Homo sapiens: one gene and its partner. The protein of the gene in region 1 purifies or fractionates together with the protein of each later gene. This does not show direct contact. Each region holds a gene or a part of one and is shown in the gene's direction. Other genes may lie near its edges.

Region 1 (3,661 bases):
AGCAATAAAGCTTATTAGGGAAAAGAAGAAAGCAATTTAAAAATGATTCTAAGGTTTCAAGCATTGGTGCCAGAAATAAATAAGCTTATAAATGAAGCTAGTTTGGGGTGTAAGATTCAGTTTTGGCCAGGCGCGGTGGGTCACGCCTATAATCCCAGCACTTTGGGAGGCCGAGGCGGGCAGATCACGAGGTCAAGAGATCAAGACCATCCTGGCCAATATGATGAAACCCCGTCTTTACTAAAAATACAAAACTTAGCTGGGCATGGTGGCACGCACCTGTAATTCCAGCTACTTGGGAGGCTGAGACAGGAGAATCGCTTGAACCTAGGAAGCAGAGGTTGCAGTGAGCCGAGATTGCACCATTGCACTCCATCCTGGTGACAGAGCAAGACTCCGTCTCAACAACAACAACAAAAGATTCAGTTTTGAACACACTTTGTGAAGTCTGAAGTGGTAACCTTCAGGACAGGAAATGTCTGGGAGCAACTGGAGAACAGAAAGTTTAGTGTTCAGTGAGGTCAGGGCTGGGCAGCCATCCTCATGTATGTATCAGCTGAAGCAGTGAGAGTGGATTCTCCAAGACACAGAGTGTAGATATAAAACAGCAAGCAAATAGCATTGCTTTTAGAAAGTAGCCTTTTAATTTGATTGGAAGGATTGCCTGGGAAGGAGCACATGTGAAATGTATGGAGTGATAGAAATGTTCTATAATGTTAAAGTGTGTTACGGGCATATGCATATGTCAAATCGCATGAAATGTACACTTAAGATTTGTACATTTCACTTTATGTACTTTACCTCAATTTTTAAAAGATGTCATCAGACAAAGAGAGCAAGGTGAGAAGGACCTGATCCCATAATTCCACTGCATGCTAACTCAAATCAGGAAGTCTTTATTAAAGGCCCCATGTGCCTGTCACTGTGCTAGGCACAGCAACTTTCAAAGAGGTAGAGAACATTGTCCTTAAAGAGAGGAGCTTCCTGCAGAGCTAGGGAAAAGAGAAGGGAAAGTTAATTAACTATTTGATATATAATCAACCCCCAAAGACAGACACACACACACGCTTTATAGCGTTATTATAAAGATTAAGTGAGATGATGGATGAAGAAAGTGATCTGAAAAGCTTTTCTAAAAACTCTAAATCTGAAGTATTTATTTCTTCACCCATAAACTTAAGGTAGTAATACCTTTCATGGTTGTGCACTTAATGAGATAATATATATAAAGTGCTTGGAACTTAGTAAGTTTCAAATAGATATTAGCATCTTTTTCCCCTGGCTCAATCTTAAGTAGTAAAGAGAATTTAAAGAAGGCAAAGATAGAAAACCTATAATTATGTTCACCATGATATTATCTATAATAAGGAAAAATTAGAATTTTATTCCTATATGCTAGTAAAATGTGAAGTTTGATTTCTTCATATTTTTTATTTTCAAAATTTCTACAACCAGCATACATTATTTAAAAACAAAGTTTAACTACCTTGAAATTTATACATTAAAAACATTATAACAGAACTCCTAAAGGAAGAAAAAAATAGAAGTCCATAATTGTCTTTAAGATTAAACCTAAGGATGTTAAAAGGAACAGCATTCAAATGGTATTTGATTCGGTTTAAATCCTTTTATTTGTCCACTCTAAAACTACAGAACATCTGTTACGTGCCAAGCATTGTCTTTGGTGGTATGGATATAAAGGTCAGCAGTGTAATGACTTTATTCTGAAGGAATTCAGTCTGATGGAAAAATCATATAAACAAGGTGGTTACTATAAAACATGGTACTTCCAGTGCCAGCGATGTGAACAAGACATTTGGGGACCTCTTTTGCTTAAAGATGGTTTCCTGGAGGAGGCGAAACCCTGAGGTGAGTTTTAATTTATTCCACTCGTCTCTTTGGAAATTATTTAGACTTTTTTCTTCTGCATTTAGCTGCAGTACAGCAATGGCGATCAGAAGGTAGAACAGCTGTATGGCTGCACATTCCCATCCTCCAAAGCCGATTTATTGCCCCTGCTGCTTCCCTGGGCTTCTGCTTTCACCACGCAGAATCGGATTCATCAACGTTGACTCTGTGGCTGAGAGAAGGGCCCAGCAGATTACCAGGATATGCTTCACATCAAGTAGGAGTTGCAGGTCAGTTTCAAACTCATGATGAGCAGAATTAACTTTTTAGACGTTCACCCAATTTCTTGCTTGTTACAGCTAAGCAAATAGTTTATTCATGTGGAATGAGTTATTTGATTAAATGATTACGGTGGTTCCACCCTATCTGCACAGGATGTGTTCCAAGACCCCCAGTGGGCACCTGTAACCGCAGATAGTACCAAACCCTATGTATATATACCATGTTTTTTCCTATCACACATATTTATGATAAAGTTTAACTTATAAGTTAGGCACAGTAAGAGATTAACAGTAACTAACAATAAATTAGAACAGTTATAAAAGTATAGTGTAATAAAAGTTATGTGAATGTGGTCTCTCTCAAAATATTGTTTTGTATTCACCCTTTTGTATTCACCTGCACGATGAGGTGAAGTGAGGTGAATGACAGGCATTATGACCTAAATGGAAAATTCCAGAAAAAAACTCTTAAGTTTTAAATTGCATGCTGTTCTGAGTAATGTGATGAAATCTCTCACCATCCTGCTCTGTCCCACCAGGCCGTGAATCTTCCCCATATCCAGTGTATCCATGATCCATAGGCTACCTATCCATTAGTTACTTAGTAGCCTTCCCTGTTATCAGATCAGCTGTCCCAGTATCACAGTACTTGGATTCAAATAACCCTTATTTTCCTTATTAATGCCCCGAAGCACAAGAGTAGTGATGTAACACTTCGAGACTATGGTTGACCTTGTATAACTGAAATCACAGAAAGCAAAACTGGACAAGGGGGACTACAGTATCTATTACATAGTGCTTTTAAATAGGACTATTACATAGTGCTTTTAAATAGATGAAGTTTGCCTCAATCAGTAGACAGACGCACAGAGAACAACTTTAGTGTTTAGTTTTCCAAAGGATATGCTTGAATATATTTTACACATATAATTAAACTTCACTACTCAAATAGTAGCACTGAATTGGGATCAGGGAATAAATTTATTGCAGAGTAAAACATGTTGGCACTAATTATGTAAATTTGTAAAGTAAATGATCATTTTTATGTTGAATTTCAGGTAAAGCAAACCAATTTTTCAATGATTTGAACAATTACTTCTTAATAATATTTACATTATTGTGCCAAACAGTTGTTTAAAATCGTGTAATTTAAGTGTAGAGTAGAATTTTGAAGTGGCTGATTAGCTTCAGAGACATAGGAAAGTTGAGAGAAGACTTCCCTCAGAGTAAGACACAGATTCTCACATTGTAGATTGCATCAAAATCACCTGGAATCTTAAAACAGATTGCTGGGCCCTATCCCCAGAGTTTCTGATTCAGTAGGTCTATGGTGGGACCTGAAAATTCAGGTGATCTTCCTGGCTGTTTCTGTTTTTGCTGCTGCTGCTGCTGCTGGTGGTGGTCTCAGTACTACCCTTTAAGGACCAAAATTCTTAGATTTCTAGAAAAACTATAATAGTAAGGGATCCTTATGACCTTAATAAATGAAAGCAATGAAGCATATTAGTTATTTAATTAATAATTTTATTTGC
Region 2 (3,661 bases), on another chromosome or scaffold:
TTTTTTAATTGTATTAGAGCAGTTAGACTGGTGTGAGAACTTAACAGTTTATTAAAATGTAAAATATTAGTGATGTAGGCATTTTGGAACATAATAAAATATTGGATATTGGTCAGGAACAACTGCTTTAATACTAGGGTATCTTGTGATAACATTGAATATAATCTGATTTTCAGAGGTTGTCTTAACCCACTTCAAATAGTAACTCCTTTCTGGCTTTCCTGACCTTCCACCTCTTAAGACAGAATTTCTGATTTTTTACAGACTTTTGATAATAGAATCATCACAATGCTGTGTAAAAACATACAGGATCCATTTTTTTTTTTTGTAATTTCAGCACCTGATACCATATTGCATGTTTGCATTAGATTGTGTATACATTTAATCTTTTCTCTTTTTCTCTCTTTTTTGGGAATGCTTTCTTTGTGTCAAGCACTATGTTACCTAATAATAAACTATAACTAACATAAATAAATTGCAGTGTTATTACTACAAATAATTTGCAAATCAAAAGTCCAGCAATGTGAATTAATTTTGAATAGTAGTTGGGTAATTCTGACTACCTGGATTTTCTTACTTTAGCAATAATAACAAAAGTAATTTCAAATGATTTTTTATTTCCTAGTGTGACTGTGAAATACTATGGAAAAGCATCTCATTCTGCTTCTTATCCCTGGGAAGGATTAAATGCATTAGATGCTGCTGTGCTGGCCTATAACAATCTGTCTGTGTTCAGACAGCAAATGAAACCAACCTGGAGAGTTCATGGTATGAATGTCAAATACCTTCTATAATAGATGGTGCTTGCTATAGTTCAGTGCAGTATAATTATTTAATATTCAATTTTTAAAAATTTGGAAATATTTTTGTACTTCATATGAATATTCTGATTTTTAAGCATATTTTCAGAAATTCATGTGACAGGATACTAAGATGTTTGTCTATATAGGGTTAGAAAGACAGTTTTGATTATTGTACATAAATGGAATGTCATCTTTGAGTATCAAAGATAAAGGTTTTATGTAAGGGGCTGTGTTCTTTCGGTGGGTGTTTGAAAATTGGATCTTGATTTTCCAGTTGTCCTCATTATTTCTTAATGATAACCAAATTTTGTCAATTAAAAAAAGGTATAATAACTGCTAGTTTTATTTAAGTGCTGTTAGTCCTGAGTAATATCTTTTTGTGTGATTTTTTGTTTTTGAGACAGTCTTGCTCTATTGCCCAGGCTGGAGTGCAGTGGTGCAATCTCGGCTCACTGCAACTTCTGCTTCCTGGGTTCAAGTGATGCTCCTGCTTCAGCCTCCCAAATAGCTGGGATTACAGGCAGGCAGACACCACCAAACCCAGCTAATATTTGTATTTTTTGCAGAGACGGGGTCTTGCTATGTTGGCCAGGCTGGTCTCAAACTCCTGGCCTTAAGTGATCTGCCCACCTCAGCCTCCCAAAGTGCTGGGATTACAGGTGTGAGCCACCATGCCTGGTCCTGAATAGTGTCTTTTAAAATTATATATATATATCACCATAATATAAATACAGTCAAAGTACTGTCTTGAAGGCACACATTTGTTTAATTTATTTCCTTATGATTTAGGAAATTGTTATATTTTAATATCTATTCTTTACCTGATTTTGCTATAGCCTGAGGTCAATTTGTAATTGTACTTTTACCAGTTTTCCTGCTTTAGTTTCTTTAAAAGGAACAAACAGGAATGTGTAGAAATATTTTTTTAAAGTAGGTCATAGGACATTGGATTTTTTGTATCTATTTTAGTTATTACTTCGAATGAATAAATCTTAATTCTTTATAATTCCAAATAAATACATTTGTTTTGACAGTTGATAATACTTAGTGATCTTTGACCTGCATTGGTTTTTTTCTTGGCATGAAAATTATTTTTCCTATAGCTAAATGCCATTTAAAATGCTCATGGGATTCCTGAGGTATGAGGGTAATTATAGAACCTCATACCATTGTTGAGGTATGGTAAAATCTTTTCCAGAAAGCTTAAGATGTTACTAATTTTTTTTGTGGTTATATAATTTCTAAGTTTCATTATAGTCTGGATCATAATTTCTTAACATTATGTAAATTCTTCTGAATGAAGTGCATATGGATAATTATTTTTTCTTATCAGCCAAAAAATATCACCCTATGTAAAGAAATTTCAGTTGTACAACATAACAAAATCTTTGATTGGTGTATTGGTGGAGCTAGTGAGTTTAAATTATTTTTCTTTATGAACATATTGGCTGAAAAACTTAATGGGTGTATTTAAGCTTAAAGAAATGGTCACCAAGCTTAATTCTAGTAATTTGGTTCTTTTTATAGGTATAATAAAAAATGGTGGTGTAAAACCCAATATCATTCCCTCTTATTCTGAATTAATCTATTACTTCCGTGCACCCTCAATGAAAGAACTTCAAGTTTTGACCAAAAAGGCAGAAGATTGCTTCAGAGCTGCAGCTTTGGCTTCAGGGTGCACAGTAAGAACTTTTAAAAGTTAATCTAAGTTACAATCAGAGGTATATATGTGGGCTAGCACTGTTAGATTGAAATCTAACTTGACTCTCTTATTTGGTGACATGTTGAATATGCAAAATGAATTGGCTGAATAGTTAATGTGAAAGTCTTTAATTTTTACACGTTTCATTCCTCAGTGCTTGCAATAGGGAAGATGACAGGTCATCTTACTTATATAGTAATTAGAATAATTCTGATACTTCTATGCTAGAATCCCTGCCTTTTTACAAGTTATATTCTTCCTTGTCGGCAGTTATACTTTTAGAATTGCTATATGTAGTTTCTATAAAGGAAAGTTTATGGCAAAATCAGCAAAAGCTTTTTTTTTTTTTTTTTTTTTTTTTTTGGTGGGGGGACAGGGTGTTGCTCTATTGCCCAGGCTGGAGTTGCAGCGGCACGATCTTGGCTCACTACAACCTCCGCCTTCCAGGCTGAAGCAATCCTCTCACCTCTGCCTCCCACCTCAGCCAGCTGAGTAGCTGGGACTACAGGCACGCACCACCACACGTGGCTAATTTTTTGTATGTTTTTCTGGAGACAGGGTCTCACCATGTTGCCCAGGCTGGTCTCAAACTCCTGAGCTCAAGTGATCCACCCACCTCGGCCTTCTAAAGTGCTGGGATTATAGGCATGAACCACCTCGCCCAGCCAGCGAAAGCCATTTCTGAAGTTAGGGTGTGTATAGTAGTGATATAAATACTATGGCTTGCTGGAATGGAAGATAAAATAGACACAGAAGTTAGTTAAGAGGTTTTATTGATTTGTTTCTGTTTGTTTGTTTGTTTTTGAGACAAAGTCTTGCTCTATTGCCCAGGCTGGAGCGCAGTGGTGCAATTTTGGCTCAACGCAACCTCCTCTGCCTCCTGGGTTCAAGCGATTCTTATGCCTCAGCCTTCCAAGTAGCTGGGACTACAGGCGCTTGCCACCACACCTGGCTAATTTTTTTTTTTCTTTTTTTTTTTTGAGGCGGAGTCTTGCCCTGTCACCCAGGCTGGAGTGCAATGGCGCAATCTCAGCTCACTGCAACCTCTGCCTCCCAGGTTCAAACAATTCTCCTGCCTCAGCCTCCTGAGTAGCTGGGATTACAGGCGCCTGCCTCCACACCCAGCTATTTTTTTGTATCTTTAGTAGAGACGAGG

Evidence for each region. Proteins that work in one complex are often made in the same cells at the same time.
Region 2: the proteins of NUDT6 (region 1) and PM20D2 purify together in Homo sapiens (affinity purification with mass spectrometry; 2 studies listed by BioGRID and IntAct, with this or other methods). This does not show direct contact.

The regions. Positions count from the first base shown.
Region 1 is NC_000004.12:122,915,978-122,919,638, reverse strand, and holds part of NUDT6 (nucleoside diphosphate-linked moiety X motif 6), read left to right. Parts: intron 1-1,934; coding exon 1,935-2,138; intron 2,139-3,661. UniProt on the Homo sapiens protein: May contribute to the regulation of cell proliferation.
Region 2 is NC_000006.12:89,152,418-89,156,078, forward strand, and holds part of PM20D2 (xaa-Arg dipeptidase), read left to right. Parts: intron 1-625; coding exon 626-768; exon of another isoform or gene 769-772; intron 773-2,330; coding exon 2,331-2,485; intron 2,486-3,661. UniProt on the Homo sapiens protein: Catalyzes the peptide bond hydrolysis in dipeptides having basic amino acids lysine, ornithine or arginine at C-terminus. Postulated to function in a metabolite repair mechanism by eliminating alternate dipeptide by-products formed during carnosine synthesis.